Regions from separate parts of the Homo sapiens genome. Here all the other regions are reported to be linked to region 3. Evidence: microRNA targets listed by miRTarBase, many of them from high-throughput screens and not tested one by one. Region 3 holds a microRNA gene; each other region holds the end of a gene's coding sequence.
What was found. The annotated mature microRNA hsa-miR-320e reads AAAGCUGGGUUGAGAAGG and lies in region 3 at 2,285-2,302, opposite strand. An mRNA with a match to its seed (bases 2 to 7 or 8) in the 3' UTR can be bound and repressed. Matches are read on the target gene's strand: a 7mer-m8 pairs with bases 2 to 8, a 7mer-A1 pairs with bases 2 to 7 and ends in A, and an 8mer does both.

Region 1: the mRNA of ZNF70 is a reported target of hsa-miR-320e. The part of its 3' UTR that is shown has no 7-base or 8-base seed match.
Region 2: miRTarBase lists ARSB as a target of hsa-miR-320e. Seed matches in the 3' UTR shown: 7mer-m8 at 996-1,002.

What each region holds. Positions count from the first base shown.
Region 1 is chr22:23,740,768-23,744,064 of GRCh38, forward strand. It overlaps ZNF70 (zinc finger protein 70), which reads right to left. Exons shown (of 2, transcript NM_021916.4): 2 at 1-3,297. The coding sequence ends at 3,033. Among named protein-coding and RNA genes, the nearest start is that of ZNF70, 8.7 kb to the right of the region's middle.
Region 2 is chr5:78,777,794-78,780,793 of GRCh38, forward strand. ARSB (arylsulfatase B) reads right to left here. Exons shown (of 8, transcript NM_000046.5): 8 at 1-2,869. The coding sequence ends at 2,604. Among named protein-coding and RNA genes, the nearest start is that of LHFPL2, 130 kb to the left of the region's middle.
Region 3 is chr19:46,707,010-46,710,356 of GRCh38, forward strand. It overlaps MIR320E (microRNA 320e), which reads right to left and starts at 2,345; the gene lies at 2,273-2,345. All of the region lies in intron 3 of PRKD2 (protein kinase D2), which reads right to left. RefSeq lists an enhancer at 2,840-3,347.

The DNA of each region.
Region 1 (3,297 bases), not on the chromosome of region 3:
AAAAAAAAAAAAAACTAATAAAACAAGGAAAGAATTTGAACAGAGGGAATGAGGCTCTGGTCATACTTCCAAAAAAGAACCTGGTCTTACCATGTTTATCTGTTAACCCTTGGGAGAGAGGGGGGATCTTCATCTCCACGTTACACAAAAATTAGAAAGAGAGAGGGAGGGAGAGGAGGAGAAAGTGCACATTTCAAAATGCAAGAACAGCACAGAATTATGAGCTGGGAGTGATGCTGGAGTGGGCAGGGGCGGCCTGATCTCCATGCGGCTTGCTCAGAGTGGGTAAACCAGGTTGGCTGAAACGAGGGTTTACGTGCAGGAAAGCTCCTGAAAGTTGGTTTTAAGGAGAGTGGTGACTTGTGCAAAATGATGCTTTAAAAATCAATTTGGCTGGGGTGTGCAGGAAGGATGGGGAGGGAGAAACCAAAGATAGGTAACAGACATTTGCCAGATGATAACGGTGGGGAAGAGGGGCAGGTGTAAAGAGGAGGTAGATCTTTCAGGGACCCCTGCTTGATGCCGCCTGCTGTCCCCACTGCATCCTAGCATTCTCTCTTCACTCTTGATAGAGACAGGCCTGAAATGACAGGCCACTTGCAGGCAATGCCCAGGGCACCATCCAGTCAGTCCAACTGGTTACACAGAGGGTTCTGGTGGACAATGGAGTGCTGGTTAAATGTTAAATGTTTCACATACGTAGCAAAGACAGGGGCTGGACAGAGGCATGGCTGGAACTCCCACCATGACCTCTCCAGCCCATCATATCTGTCATTTGGAAATCTCTGGCCTATCAAGACCCACTTAGTAACAGTTATGGCTTTCCCATGTTTATTCATCAAAACTAGGCATAATGGCCATGCTGAGCTTCTGATCAGCTGAAATACCCAGTGTTACCATGATGAGTTCATGTTAGCCCAGCCATAAATGTTTAGGAAACTTCAAAACAGCCTAGACTGCCTCCTTCCCCACTAGCTCTGAGGAGCCCAAGGGAAGCCAGGACTAAAGAGATCCCCAAGGCCCCAGCCAAACACTTTCCAAGCGCCCAGCTGACCATCAGCCTGAGCCCATCCCTGAGGCTCCGGGTGCGGGGAGCAGGGAGTGAGGGCACTGAGACAGAATGGCCTTCAAGCTCTGCTCAGCCAAAGCCAGCAGGCTGACATTGGAAGCTGTCGAGGGATGCACAAAAACCCAGCATGGGCCAGGTGTGGAGGCTCATGCCTGTAATCCCGGCACTTTGGGAGGTCAAGGCGGGCAGATCACGAGGTCAAGAGATCGAGACCATCCTGGCCAACATGGTGAAACCCCGTCTGTACTAAAAATACAAAAAATTAGCCAGGCATGGTGGCACGCACCTGTAGTCCCAGCTACTCAGGAGGCTGAAGCAGGGGAATCGCTTGAACCCAGGAGGCAGAGCTTGCAGTAAGCCAAGATCACGCCACTGCATTCCAGCCTGGCAACAGGGCAACACTCCATCTCAAAAAAAAAAGCCCAGCACAGGGCCCACAGCCTGGCTGCACACTAGGAAGTTATAATCACCTGGGGAGCTTTAAAACATGCCACCACTGGGGCTGACTGAACTGGTCCAGGTGGGACACAAGCAATGGTACTGTTTAAACAAGCCCCACGTGAACTCCTAGTTGGCAGGCGGGGAAGACAGACAGAATGTGGAAGTGCAGAATGACACTGCTGCTACAGGAGGCTCAGGATGGCATCCTAGAGGAAGTGTCCTTGTGTGGGACACTGCATCCGCAGGCATACACAGCCCAGGCTGCAAGGGGTGGAGGGAGAGAAAGCCCTGTTCAATGAGAGGTCCCACTGCTCAGAAACCAGACGGGAACATCTCTCCAGTCCGTGGAAATGCACAGGGGTGGGGCAGGGGTCACTCTGGGTCTCTGTCCTCAGTCACCATGACTGCTCACAGTTGCCAAAGCACTTTCACAGTGGCTGTGTTCTGAATGACAGCCTGGCACCAACCCTTAGAGGCACGTGGCCAGTTCCCATTACCCCAACTCTTGGATGGGGGAATGGAGCCTGGGGAAGTTACAGGACTTGTTCAAGCTCACCCAGGTAGGAGGGGGTGGAACTAGGACTTGAACCCAGACCTTCTGATTAGAACACAGCCTCCTCCAACAAGCCACCCAGCTTCCCAGGTCCCCTGACACTGGGGCAGGAGGGCTGCATCATTGCCAGAACAGACCAGACCCAGGCCCTGCTGATGTCCAAGGCACACTGTGGTCTTGGGGACACTATGTCTCAGGGAGGGGTTATTCCTGGAGGGCAGTCATGTCCGGTGTCCAGGCTGAGTCACGGCTGGGTGTCAAACATCCTCTGGCCAACAGGATCAAATCTCTATCCTCCTGTAACAGAGCTGTCTGAGGGAAACTGCCCTAGGGCTAAGGAGAGGGTTAAGAGGCCACGCCCAGGGGCTCACCACCCTCATCCCCAATCTCAAGACCCACCCTCCAGACCTGCCTTTGCTCTGCAGACCTGTTTTGGTTGTCCCCACCAATGCCCAACGCAGTGAGAAAATTCTACTTTGCTGCTGACACATCTACTTTTGAATTCATTTTTCTTCTACTGCTTTGGACTGTGAGTGTGGTTTCTGTCTTCTAAAAGTGCCAGACTGCAGCCTGTTTTAAAGAGTTCTTCTGATATTTTCCTGGGTTTAATTCAACTTTCTCCCTCTTGGCATTTATTCTTCTAGATTCTGGGAAATGTGAAGACAGGGCAAAATGAAATCCTGTAGGCTTGGGAGTCAAATGCAAGAAGGAGAAACTGAAGGCCAGCTGTCTTTTCTGGCTGCCCTCCCTATCACCCCACCTTCCCTTCCATGCAGAAAACCTGCTGAGAGCTGGCGTGCTTGGCCCAGGGCCACACAGGGCCTTCCTGCTAGTGGGATGTTCAAGAGCGCTTAGGTGGGAAGGTTTCCATTCAGCATCAGGGAGGTAGGTGGGGTCTTGGAGACCACGCGACGTGGAATAAAGGCTCCATCTGGCACAGGCTTTCAAGCTTTGTGTGGGCTCCTCTTTCTATAGCTTCTCCCCAGAATGAATCTTCTGATGGCGAATCAGGTGCGAGCTCCCCCGGAAGGACTTGCCGCACAGATTGCACACGTAGGGCTTCTCTCTGGTGTGGGTTTTATAGTGCTCAATGAGGGCTGACCGGTGCCGGAAGGCTTTGCCACACTCGCAGGTGTAGGGCTTCTTGCCGGTGTGGATTCTCTGGTGCTGGATCAGCGCAGAGCTGTGGCAAAAGGCCTTGCCACACTGACAGCACTCGTAGGGCTTCTCACCG
Region 2 (3,000 bases), not on the chromosome of region 3:
GTGAGCCGAGATCACACCACTGCACTCCAGCCTGGGTGACAGAGCGAGACTCCATCTCAAAAAAAAAAAAAAAAAAAATTGGAAAGAAATAACATTATTTCTAACAACAATATATCAATCTTTTCACATTCTTATATAGAATCAGAGAATCTAATGAAATACATTCTATTATGGATAAACCAAAATCTCAAGTACTTGTTTTACAAAAAATTAAGTCTTCAAAACTCTTTTGAAGTCCACTGGGTGCAGAACATCCCCCACTGTGCCTGAAAACCAAGGAACTAGAACTGGAGACAGCTGTTGGGAGGACAGCAGCGATAACAGATAGGTGCCCTGTAGCGATGGCCTCCAACGGCTACCTACACCCAGCCCTGGGATTCGGAGGATGCAGAAGGAACATCTGGGCTCAGCTATTTCATGCTGTCGGCCATACACTTCCAAGTGGGAGGTGATGGCAGTTTGGTCAGCTGTTTGCCAACCCAGGAGTTGGGTAAAGGTTGGTAAGAGATGTTATTAGTTTTAGCACCATTTCCTTCCAATAGTCTCATTTTAATACAATACAGGTTAGTAGTGACCAGAAAATATTGCTACTGAATTGAAGGATGACTATACAAGGACTTATATCAGATTATTTGTTGCTTTTAGTTTCTAGTGTCCCATAAAGTATAGAAATGGAAATTGCTGACAAGAGAGTACCTTTGGTAGGCACAGTTCCTTTTCTCCCCCCACTGGAGAGGACGCTACAACCTTGCTATAGAGTGTCCTGTGACTGCCCAGTGATGTAGATTATGCTCCTACCCCAGGAGGGGCAGCTTGAGAACAGAAAAGCAACAGCTGGAAGACATTTATATTACCTCTGTATTCAGCTCATTGGACTAGCATCTTTCATGGTGTGAGACTTTCTCATTTACTCATTTGTCCATTTATTCATTTGTTTTAAAAAATGAGGCCAGGCATGGTGACTCATGCCTGTAATCCCAGCACTTTTGGAGCCCAAGCTGGGATAATTGCTGGAGCCCAGGAGTTTAAGACCAGCTGGGCAACATAGGGAACCTTGTCTTTTCAAAAAATAAAATTAGCTGGGTGTGGCGGTATATGCCTGTAGTTCCAGCTATTTGGGTGCCTGAGGTGGGAGAATCACTTGAGCCCAGGAGTTTGAGGCTACGGTGAGTTGTGATTGTACCACTGTACTCCAACCTGGTGACAGAGTGAGATCGTCTCATAAAGATATAAAAAATTAAAAATAAAATAAAAATTAAAAAATGAGTGCCTTCAGGCAGTGTTCCAAGCATTGGTGAACACAATGGTGGGGCTAATGCAGAAAAGAGTATCATTTTTGCACACATTTCTCTGGGTTTGACACTCTCTGGAGCTAATATGGACTGTTCCACATTAGTAAGACATTAGTGGGATTGAGAAAGGGCTGCAGGTGTCAAACTGCATCCTCTTTGCCAGACCCCAGAACCTCAAAACAAGCAGTAAAACAGAGAATAAGAGGACTGTGGGTGTGCCCTCCTCTGCTTTACCAAGGCCCAGTATCCCAGACACTGGCCACTTGCTTTTTCATATCCTTTCCTGAGGTTTCTTCTCACTGCTAGTAAATAGCAGTGCAAGTCTTAATATATTATGAAATAAAGCTACAATCACAATGACTAACTCCATGCAATATAGGAAAAGCCTCGCTGAACAGATGCCACAGAGCCAAGCATCTCCCACCCAGCCCTCTTAGTGTCTACCATGAACATCCTCACAGAGCAACTCCACCGCCTATTACGGGGAGGCCTCTAGCTTCAGCCCTAGGGGCAAAAGTAAGGCAGGGCTCAGCAGCGTTCCAGAAATCAGGGGTGCTCAGGTAGAGAAGCAAAGTGGCCTTCCCAGGGATAGGACTACTGAGGTCAAAAGGAAAGGCAGGAAAAGCCACAGAAGAATTGGAAGTGGCAGGAAGTCTAGACAGAGTGAGCAATGGCTGGGGGGAAATAAATTACGATAAAAACACATTTCTTTATTTTAAAAGCCACAGTCATGGTGCAGGCATTTTGCTGTTGACCTGAACAACAAAATGGGCCTTATGCTCTGTGATGAGATAAGTGAGTAAGGGGTGAACCAAGAGGGGTGGTTCACTTGGAGTGCCTGAACATGATCCTTCACCGACAGGGAGAAGCCTTGGCCAACAGAACCATTAATCACTGTCTGCTCCCTTCATTTGCGTAAGAAATGTGATTCACTCCAATAAAACTGGCTATTGGCAGAGGGGAATCGAACGTCTGACTTGTGAGTCTAAAAGAGCCAGCTGTTCCAGCCTCCAGGATTCAGTGAGAACTTCCTATTTCAAGTTAAGTTCCCAGCTGTCCCAAGGCTTAGGAAAGGGGGATAAACCCAGCCACCCCCACCTCTAGACACATGCTCCAGCCAACAGCAGGAGTGTTGCAGATTTTATCAGCTTCTTAAATGCATTAGGGGTTGAAATTAGACACCTCGGTGTGGTTTAAGAGCAAGAGAAGGGCCAAGTGAACCCAGGTTGGGATAACAAATGAGACAAGAGTCGTGAGAAAAGGCCTGAGGTCCAACTTCCAATTGAAAGGTTTTCTAGCCTCCCTGAAATCCTACATCCAAGGGCCCCACACCCCAGTGGCCTTGGGATCACAGCGGGGGTCCTGTGCAGGGAAGTACACGGGGACTGAGTGTTTATGGTAGAACTGTAGGCGGGACAGGAGCTTTGTGACGATGTGAGGATATTCTCTGGACAGGTCATGTCTTTCTTCAGGGTCCCGATCAATATCAAAGAGCCAGAGGGTCTTGGTTGGTGGGTCTGATGAGGGTATCTCAGAAACATTGTATTGAGACGGTGGAGGGAACCAGTAACCACAGCCTAGCAAAGAAAACAAAACAGTTTACTGAGGGAGAAGCACAGAGGCAGGTTCTAATTTCAGGGAAGGAGTCTGAGGCCAAGGCTGCACTGGGTTGTGGGTGTGGAAACATAAAAAGATGCGGCCCTAGATG
Region 3 (3,347 bases):
CAGCCTCCCGAGTAGCTGGGATTATAGGTACCCGCCACCACACCCAGCTAATTTTTCTAGTTTTAGTAGAGACAGGGTTTCACCATGTTGGCCAGGCTGGTCTCTAACTCCTGACCTCATGATCCGCCCGCCTTGGCCTCCCAAAGTGCTGGGATTACAGGTGTGAGCCACCGTGCCTGGCCCAGAATCAGGATTTCTGTACAAGCGTGGCACCCACGGAGCTAGAGATGCTGTCTCAGACCTAATACCCAATGGAACATCCAAGAATATGGCTCTAATTGCAGGGCACACCATACAAAAATGGAGGCGCATGGGGCCCAGCGCAGTGGCTCATGTCTGTAATCCCAGCACTTGGGGAGGCTGAGGAGGGTGGATTACTTGAAACCAGCCTGGCCAACATGGTGAAACCCCGTCTACTAAAAATACAAAAATTAGCCAGGAGTGGTGGTGCGCACCTGTAATCCCAGCTATTTGGGAGGCTGAAGCAGGAGAATTGCTTGAACCCAGGAGGTAGAGGTTGCAGTGAGCCAAGACCACGCCACTGCACTCCATCCTGGGTGACGGAGCAAGACTCTGTCTCACACACACAAAACAATGGAGCCACAGGGTCTCATCACAGAATGGATGGTCCTCACCTGTCATCTGTCCTCATAGCCAATGCAGGTACATGGCCTTCATCTGTAGGCAGAGCCCCGATTTCAACATTCTCACTCAGAAGCATGAATAACAGGGACAGAGGACCTATATAGATCTTGACACTTGGGCTGAACCTTGAGACATCTTGGCTTAAAGAACTGTATGTTTTGGACAGGCGCGGTGGCTCATGCCTGTAATCCCAGCACTGTGGGAGGGCAAGGCGGGTGGATCATTTGAGGTCAGGAGTTCAAGACCAGCCTGGCCAACGTGGTGAAACCCCGTCTCTACTAGAAATACAAAAATTAGCCGGGCAGTAATGGTGTGTGCCTGTAATCCCAGCTACTCGGTAGGCTGAGGCAGGAGAATCGCTTGAGCCTGGGAAGTGGAGGTTGTGGTGAGCTGAGATCGCGCCACTGCACTCCAGCCTGGGTGACAGACTGAGACGCTGTCTCCAAAAAAGAAAACCTGTATATTTTTAAACTATGATTTAAGGAGATATGTATGGGTGCTGTTATGGACTAAATGTCTGTGTCTCCCCCAAAATTCTTATGTTGAAACCCTAACCTCCAATGCAACTATATCTGGAGACGGTGCCTTTATGGAGGTAATTAAGGTTAATTGAGGCCGAAAGAGTGTGGCTGTAATCCAATGGGACTGGTGACCTTTTTTTTTTTTTTTTTTTTTTTTTTTCTGAGACAATCGTGTTCTGTCACCTAGGCTGGAGTGCAGTGGCATGATCACGGCTCACCGCAGCCTCAACCTCCCAGGCCCAGGTGATCCTCCCACCTCAGCCTCTTGAGTAGCTAGGACTAGAGGTATGCACCACCATGCCTGGCCAATTTGTTGTATTTTTTAGAGACGGGGTTTCACCATGTTGCCCATGCTGGTCTCGAACTCCTGGACTCAAGCGATCCACCATCCTCCCAAAGTGCTGGGATTATAGGCATGAGCCACCATGCCTGGCCTTCCTTATAAAGGGAAGAGATACCAGGGATCTCTCTCTCCGTGTCCCATGTGAGCGCACAGTGAAATGATGGCCCTCTGCAAGGCAGGAAAGCAGGCTACACCAGAAACAGAACCCTGCCAGAATCTGGATCTTTGTCTTTCCAGCCTCTCACAATTCCAGGGATTTTGAGAAGTAAATGTCTGTCATTTAAGCCACGCAGGGTGGTATTTTGTTAAGGCAGCCCTGACAAACTAAGACAGGTGCCAGGTTGACAAGAGATGGACCCTGATAGTCATGTTAATGTGTCAGCTTGGCTAGGCGAGATCCACAGTTATTCAGACACTAATCTAGATGTTGCCATGAAGGTTGGTTTGTTTGTGGTTTTTTTTTTTTTTTTTTTTTTTGAGACGGAGTCTCGCTCTGTTGCCAGGCTGGAGTGCAGTGGCACGATCTCGGCTCACTGCAACCTCTGTCTCCTGGGTTCAAGTGATTCTCCTACCTCAGCCTCCCAAGTAGCTGGGACTATAGGCACATGCCACCACGCCCGCTAATTTTTGTATTTTTAGGAGAGATGGGGTTTCACCATGTTGGCCAGGGTGGTCTCAATCTCTTGACCTCATGATCCGCCTGCCTCAGCCTCCAAAGTGCTGGGGTTACAGGTGTGAACCACTGTGCCCAGTCAAGGTTTGTTTTTTCTTTTCACCTTCTCAACCCAGCTTTTCCCCGACTCCAGGAAGAACTGGGAAGAGAAGGCCCCATGGAGGTATTTTCTTTTCTTTTCATTTTTTTGAGACAGAGTTTTGCTCTTGTTGCCCAGGCTGGAGTGTAATGGTGCAATCTCAGCTCACTGCAAGCTCTGCCTCCCGGGTTCAAGAGATTCTCCTGACTGAGCCTCCCGAGTAGCTGGAATTACAGGCGTCCACCAACACGCCGGCTTTTTTGTATTTTTAGTAGAGACGGGGTTTCACCATGTTGGACAGGCTGGTCTCGAACTCCTGACCTCAGGTGATTCACCTGCCTCGGCCTCCCAGAGTGCTGGGATTACAGGCGTGAGCCACCGCACCCGGCCCAGTGGAGGTATTTTCTGGATGTGATGAAAATCCATAATCAGCTGACTGTAAGTGGGAGAGGTGATCCTGCTTGTTCTAGGTGGGTCTCATTCAATCAGCTGAATGTTTTAAAAAGCAGATCAGAGACTTTTCGGATGAAGAAATTCCACCTGTGGACATCAGCTTCAGCTTGTGCCTGAGTTCCCACTTGCCCTTCCTGATAGGATGGATTTTTTTTTCTTTTTCTTTTTATTGTTTTGTTTTTGTTTCTGTTTTCAGAAGGAGTCTCACTCTATCACCAGGCTGGAGTGCAGTGGCACAATCTCGGCTCACTGCAACCTCCTCCTCTCAGGTCCAAGCAATTCTCCTGCCTCAGCCTCCCAAGTAGCTGGGACTACAGGCGTGTGCCACCACGTCCGGCTAATTTTTTGTATTTTTAGTAGAGACGGGGTTTCACCATGTTAGCCAGGAGGGTCTCAATCTCCTGACCTCGTGATCCACCCGCCTCGGCCTCCCAAAGTGCTGGGATTACAGGCATGAGCCACCGTGTCCGGCCTTTTTCCTGTTTTTGAGCCAGGGTCTCGCTCTGTCACCCAGGCTGGTGTGCAGTGGTGCAATCAGGGCTCACTACAGTGTCGAGCTCCCAGGCTCAAGTGATCCTCCCGCCTCAGCCTCCCAAGTGGCTGGGACCACAAGTGTCTGTCACCATGCTTGGC